2 linked regions of the Homo sapiens genome follow. The protein of the gene in region 1 purifies or fractionates together with the protein of each later gene. This does not show direct contact. Each region holds a gene or a part of one and is shown in the gene's direction. Other genes may lie near its edges.

Region 1 (3,834 bases):
CATGTTGGGATGTTAAATCATGAAACAAGCATTTAAGTAGAGGAAAGCAAAGTTTTGGTATATGGATATAGATGTCATGAATAAAGAGATATTTCCCAATGAGAGATAACCATTTAGAAGCAAAACCCTCTGTACTTTTTTGTCTTAAGACTATTGAAAGATCTTTTACTGATTTTGAGGTTGCTGTAAACATTATGTCATGTTGTATGTTTTTAAATACTAATTGTTTCAGTACTATTGTTTTCTTTTTCTAGCTTGTCCACGTGGTGGTATTTTGTATCTATTATTCTTTCTACTCATTATTACTTTTCCTTTCCCTTAGAAATAATAGCAAAATAAAGGCTATAAAATGGCCACTTGTTTCATACTAAATGCCACTCAGAGGGTCTCAAATTACTTTGAGAAGACCTTTTTGCCTCTTCTTCCTCTCTAAAACCACCCATAAACAAGAGAATGAGAAAGAAATACAAATTCTATTTTGAAATTAGAAGACATCTGTAATCTTGGACCTCAGCATATGAAGATTGGCAGTAGATGGATGAGTTGGTAACTGACTTAGAGCAGAGCGGTTATGTCTGAGTGCCTGTCTAGGAGTGTGCCTGTAAGAAGCAAGTGCATTTCCTCTGCAAAATTATGAAAAAAAAAAAAAACTCAACAATGGGAAGCACTAGGTAATACAGAAGGCAAGAGGCTGAAAACTAGAAGTTAAAAGTGTTAGGAGTAATTAATAATTCTTATCTACTACAGCTCAGCCAGGTGACTACCTCTGCAAGAAACAGGAGGGGTCTTCTTGGAGGTGGGAGGTGGCAGAGAACAGGCCTCTCTGCTTCTGGAACACTAAGCACAGAGGAGGTGGGATGTGAGCCTGAAAATGGAAGCTAGTAAGTCTGTACAGTAAACTGAGACCCCTTCTACCTGCTCTTTTCTCTTGTTTACAGTTAGACTTATTGCCCTCCCAGCTGGAGGATCTTTCTCCAGAGAACCAGAAAAGACCCAGAAAAAATATTTCAGATATTAGCATTTGGTTTCTTGTCAGGCTTGTCACACATTCACCTTAGGGAGAAGCTCACTAGTCAAGCCTGCTATATGAGTTTCTTAGAACTGCTGTAACATGACTACAAACTGGGTCACTTAAAACAACAGAAATTTATTCTCTCAGAGATCTGGAGGCTAGAAGTCTGAAATTAGTGTCAGCAGGGCCATGCTCCCTCCCTCTGAAGACTGTAGGGAAGAATTCTTCCTTGCCTTGTCCTAGTTTCTGGTGGCATCTGTCAATCCTTGGCATTCTTTGGCTTATATAGCAGTGTCACTCTGTCTTCACATTTCCTTCACTTTGTGCCTGTGTGGTCCTTATTAAGGCACCAGTTATTGGATCTAGGGCCTACCTTAATCTAGTATGATGTCATCTTAACTCATTACATCTGTGAAGACCTACGTCCAAATAAAGTCAAATTTATGGTCAGGTGGACTTGAATTTTGGGGGACATTCCAAAATTCAGCCCACTACAGACCACTGCTCCCCTCCACACACACGCTTGCTCATACTTGTGCAATGGCTTCTATATGTTTTTGTACTGCATACTTATTTTTTTTAATGTTTTTCTCCCCCCAACCCCATACTGCATACTTACTAAATATGAGTAGATAGCCAAGGATCACCATTAGTGCTTAGCACATAATGAGCATTCCATAAGTGATAGCTGCTGTTATATTGAATATTACCAAGTTACTGTATTAATATTCCAGATTTAAAGAAAATGTTGCTTTTAATTTACATACTTTTAGTATTTCCATCTTAGCAATAACTAGGAATGTATACATTTCAGTAGTTTGATTTCTTTATTAAATTTAATTGTTTTTGAGAGGATAACATTTATTAACTAAAAAACCAGTCCAGAACTGAATGTATCTTCCTCTTCTTATGTAGTAGTCCCAAAAATGTGTTCAGTATCGTATAACCTCTCAAGATACTCTGAGTAAAAATGGATTCTGCTACAAAGGATGATTTGGAGGTGCTGCATATTATTATATTCCCTCTGATAAGGGCTGTAAGATACCTTGTGCTTAAGAATTAAGAATCCTTTTAATCAAGCATTTTCCTAAATGTATTTAACTACAGGACTTCTTATCCCAATATAAGAACTTTGCACATCCCATAGAACTGATATCCAAAATATGCTTTAGAAAAAGCTTCATAGAAACTGGAAACCATCATTCTTAGCAAACTATCGCAAGGACAAAAAACCAAACACCTCATGTTCTCACTCATAGGTGGGAATCGAACAATGAGAACACTTGGACACAGGAAGGGGAACATCACACACCGGGGCCTGTTGTGGGGTGGCGGAGGGGAGGGATAGCATTAGGAGATGTACCTAATGTAAATGACGAGTTAATGGGTGCAGCACACCAACATGGCACATGTATACATATGTAACAAACCTGCACGTTGTACACATGTACCCTAGAACTTAAAGTATAATAAAAAATATATATAAAAATAATAAAATTTAAAAAGCTTCATAGAATAACAGGTTTAATGATGATAATGTTGAGTACATATTGAATTGTAAAGAATCTGGGTGATGATTTAAGGTCATATATTGCCTTGACTTGATGTTTAGTGTTTTGCATGTTTTTATATTAGTAAAGAATAATTATCAATAAAAATAATGATTTTTAGATATCATTGGAGGATATATATGGTAACATAAATTGCTAAGATATTTCTGTGCTCTTTCTCATGTAGGACAAAACTTTCGGTTTGAAGAATAAGAAAGGAGCAAAGCAACAGAAGTTTATCAAGGCTGTCACACATCAAGTTAAATTTGGTCAACAAAATCCACGTCAGGTAAGTAATTTAAATGTCCATATCTTTTTATAAATGTAATATTAATATAGCCTCTGTTTCAGATAAAATGTCTGGTATTATTATATAATTGTATTTCAAAACAGAATCCTACTTGAAATGTTTTTGCACCTTGGCCTTCCTTACCAGCAGTACCTCTTGGATATTGTCCAAGCCATTTTGATATAACTCTCATTTATTCTAATAATGATTGCATGCCGTTCTACAGTACAGGTGTGTTATATTCATCTATTTCACTGTTCATAAGTGATCACTTTGTTTCCAGCTTTCTGACACTAAGACCACCTGTAGAAATACAGGAGTTCTTACATGTGTTTATGCTTTTATTTCTGTGGCATAAATTAGCTGGTAACAGACTCCAGATCAAGGGAAATGGATTTCTAATTTTAACATTATAAATTTGCCAGATCACTTTCCATAGAGGCTGTAGTACTTCACATTTTCATTTGTAGTACATGAGCAATAGATACTAAAGTTCTTTTTAATGTGTTACAATCTGATAAGTATAAAGTGATATCTTATTGTTACATTGTTTCCCTCGCTACTGGAGAGTATCTTTTGTATACTTGTTAGCTGTTTGGGTTTGCACTTCTATGACTTCCCTATTGAAATTATTTGCTTTATTGGTTGTCTTTTTCTTGTCAATTTATGAGATACCTTTTGTCTGCATTGCAGATAATTGGTGATATTTCAGTTATGTTTTGCCATGCACCAATTTTTAACTTACATGTATATATAGAGTTTAATATTGCTAGATATGTTGCTAGCTTTTTAAAAATATGGTTATAAGGTCTCCCCTGCCACTGGATTCTGCATGTTTTTCCTAGATCATTTGTAATTATTTTATTTTTATAGTCTATGTCATATGAATTTATTTTATATATCTTAAAGTTCTCACTCTGTTGCCCAGGCAGGAATACAATGGTGTGATCTTGGCTCACTGCGGCCTCTGCCTCCTGGGTTCA
Region 2 (3,834 bases), on another chromosome or scaffold:
AGATGCTTACCCACCCTCAGTCTGGCTGGGTACCATCTAATCAGCTTCCAGCACTGCTAGCATAAAAGCAGGCAAAGGAACATGGAAGGACTAGACTGGCTTAGTCTCCCAGCCCACATCTTTCTCCCGTACTAGATGCTTCCTGCCCTTGAACATTGGAATACAAGTTCTTCAGCTTTGGGACTCTTGGACCTTCGACCACAGACTGAAGGCTGCACTGTCGGCTTCCCTATTTTTGAGGTTTTGGAACTTGGACTGGCTTTCTTGCTCCTCAGCTTGCAGACAGCCTAATGTGGGACTTCATCTTGTGATCGTGTGAGTCAATGCTTCTTAATAAATTCCCCTTTATATATACACCTATCTTATTAGTTCTGTCCCTCTAGAAAACCCTGACTAATACGCTCTCTATCTTCCCCCCACATCCTACCAGTAATAACTCCATAGAGTGGTTGTCCAGAAATTACTTATGAACACCTCCAGTTACAGTGAGCTGAAAATTCCAGAGGCATTTCCATTCTGCTTTTAGTCAGCTTAAAACATTAGAACATTATTTTCTGAGATTAAGCTGAGAACTGTTTCCTTTCATGTTTCTTTGATTCTAATAATTACCCATTATAAACTCATCTTTATCCTTGTAATATGAAGCCTTCTCTTCTCCAACTTAGTATTTCCTGTTTCTCTAGCCATTCTTCATAAGCTGTGATCTCTAGAGGTGTCACTAAATATGTTTCAGTTTGTCAGTTTCTCTCTTCTACAAAAGGTCGTCCCAGAATTGAATGTCATAATCCAAGAATGGTATGACTAGCATTGTATAAAGTAGTGTAAGGTCCTCATTCTGGACACTTTGTTTCTCTTTTAGCCCTTTTATTTTCTGAGGAATAGTATTTCACAGTGGTTTTAATTTACATTTCACTGATTACTAAGAAGTTGTGCATCTTTTCATATATTTATTGCCATTTATATATTTTCTTTTGTGGAATATCTGTTAAGAACTTTTTCTATTTTTCTATATTTTTTTGTCTCTATTCCTAATAGCAACATTTTGTCCCTATGTGTTGCAAGTAACTTTTATCCTGAGGCTAGCCTTTTTTTAAACATTTTTAATTAGTCATATATAAAATATTTTTCTTTATGGTTAATGCTTTTCTGTGAATTTTTAAAGAAATCTTTCCAGACCCTGAGAACGTGAAAATGTTATCTTACATTTATTTATAAAAGCTTTATTGTGGTGCTTTTTACATTTAGATCTACATTCCACCTGGAATTGATTTGTGTGTAAGGTTTGAGATATATGTCAAGTTTAATTTTTTTCAAATAGCTATCCAATTATTCTAGCACCAATAATTGAAACTACACCCTTTTCCCACTATTTTGCAATACCATCTTTGTCAAAAATCAAATGATTATACATGCGTGAGTCTGTTTCTGGTGTCTGTATTCTGTTTCATTTGTCTATTTGTCTACCCTTGTGCCATTACCACACTATATTACTTATTATAAATTTAAATATCTTGAAATGTAATATGGCAAATTCTCCTACTTTGGTCTTCTTCATGAAGTGTCCTGACTATTCATTGCCCTTTATATTTCCTTTTAAAAAGGTAGAATGTTTATAACCGCAATATACAAATACAATTGATTATAGTATGTTGACCTTGTATCAAGTAATTTTCTAAACTCATATGTGAATATTAATAGTTTATCTGTATATTCTTTTACATTTTCTATTTACACAATAACATCAACCATAAAAAATGGCAGCTCTATTTTTTCTTCCAATCTTATACTTTTTATTCATTTTCATTTCCTTATTTCCTTTGACACCTCCAGAACACTCATTCCTTTCACCATTGTTGTGTAACAAACAACCCTAAAGCTTAGTGGCATGAAGCAACCATTTTATTATACTCACAGATTCTGCAGGTCAAGAATTCAGCCAGGGCACAGAGGTGACTACTTGTCTCTTCTCTACTGTAATTAGGACGTCAGCTGGAAAGCCTTGAAGGCTGGGAGTCACTTGATGGCTGCAGGCTAAAACCATTTGGAGGTTTCTTTATTTGTGTTTCTGGTGCCTTTGTTGAAATGATTCAAACATTAAGCTCAGATGTAAATGTTGACTAGAGTGCCTGAATATGGCTTCACCACATGACTTTCTCATGGCATGGCAGCTTCAGAGAGTTGATCTTCTCATACTGCAGCTTACAGCCCAATGAACAAGGCAGAAACTAGATCATCTTTTATGACCTTATCTTGGAAGTCACATAGCATCATTTCTCCGAACAGCTATAATCCAGAAACAAGAAAAACAACACTTGAATGGACTCCAAAGGAACCTTTAAGGTGACTTGGATAGGCTCCAAAAGCAAAAGTTATATGTCTTTGAAAAAAGATAGCATCATCTGGAGCCTCATTGTTAGTACCACATTTTCATCTCAAAGTCTAGCACTCGATTGAAAATAATCTTACCTAAAAAAATAGATGTGACTGAAAACTAAAGACTAGAAAAGCACACAAAAATTAAAAAGAGGTATTACCATCAAAGGAGTAGCAAAAAAAAAAATTATTGCTGACTGTACATCAGAACAAATGAGAGGCAGAAGACAATGAAAACATGGCTTCAATGTTCTAAAAGAATATAACTGTCAGCATAGAATATAACTGTGCTAAAATAATAACTGTCAGCATAGAAATCTAAAGCCAACAAAAATATCCCTTACAAACTAATGTGAAATAAAGACACTTTCATATAAACAAAAGAGAATTATTCACCAAAGTTTTACACTAATTGAAATACTAAAGAATGTATTTCGGGTAAAATAAAAAAGATTATAGCTAAGAGATGCAGCAAGAAGTGAAGAACAACAGAAATGGCAAATATCTGAGTAAATCTGAATGAGCAATGTGTAAAACAATAATAACAAATGTCTTGTGAGTTTAAAATATGTACAGAACTAAAAGACATAAGAAAAATTTAAAATTGTATATATAAATAAAAACCTTCCCACAAAGTAAACTATAGGCCCAGGTTGTTTCATTGGCAAAATTTACCAAACATTTAAAGAATAAATAATGCCAATTTTACCCATATTCTTCAATATAATAGAAGAAAAAGGATATTTCTCAATCATTTCAAGGGCAGCTTAGTGTTCATTCCAAAGCTTGATGAGTACATTTCAAGAAAAGAAATACACAGGCCAATCTCATCTCTTGAAAAATAGAAGCAAAGTTACTAAACTAAGTAGTATCAAACCAAATCCAGTAGTATATAAAAAGGATAGTACTTTATGACCAAGTTGGGTTATTCTAATTGTTAAGCAGAACACTGGGCATCACTTGCTAATCCCAGGAATTGACTCTAATCACATATGCCCATTGCATCGCTTTATCAGAGTCATGAAGGAGAACATAATGCAGTCAAGCCCTGGATGAAACAACACTTTACTTATATAGAAAAAAAACAGAGCACAATCAGCTTCAATAGTGTGTGTTGGTACCCTCCATGGCTAGACGGTACCCCCTAGCAACAAACACAGAGCAACTGGATAAGCACACCCTTCTTGTGCCTTAGAAAAAGGACCCTTATCCACACCCACACCAACCCAGTCTGAAAGACAGAAAGCTAGGACATGTCTGAGAGCCATGGATGCATACACTTAGTAAAACAAAAGAACACTTAGTAAGTCTGAAACAGAAAAATATTTCTAGCCTGGAACAGGGTGTGTAGGCTGCTTATCTCTTGCTAAGGAAATATTTTAGTCCCAATGCCTATTTTAAATGGCCATGTGGGGGTCAAAAGACTGCATACACAAGATTGCCTTTCCCAACACTAAGAAT

Evidence for each region.
Region 2: the proteins of ZC3H15 (region 1) and HMGN5 fractionate together in Homo sapiens (co-fractionation; one large-scale study listed by BioGRID). This does not show direct contact.

Annotation. Positions count from the first base shown.
Region 1 is NC_000002.12:186,492,484-186,496,317, forward strand, and holds part of ZC3H15 (zinc finger CCCH domain-containing protein 15), read left to right. Parts: intron 1-2,749; coding exon 2,750-2,851; intron 2,852-3,834. UniProt on the Homo sapiens protein: Protects DRG1 from proteolytic degradation. Stimulates DRG1 GTPase activity likely by increasing the affinity for the potassium ions.
Region 2 is NC_000023.11:81,191,599-81,195,432, reverse strand, and holds part of HMGN5 (high mobility group nucleosome-binding domain-containing protein 5), read left to right. Parts: intron 1-3,834. UniProt on the Homo sapiens protein: Preferentially binds to euchromatin and modulates cellular transcription by counteracting linker histone-mediated chromatin compaction.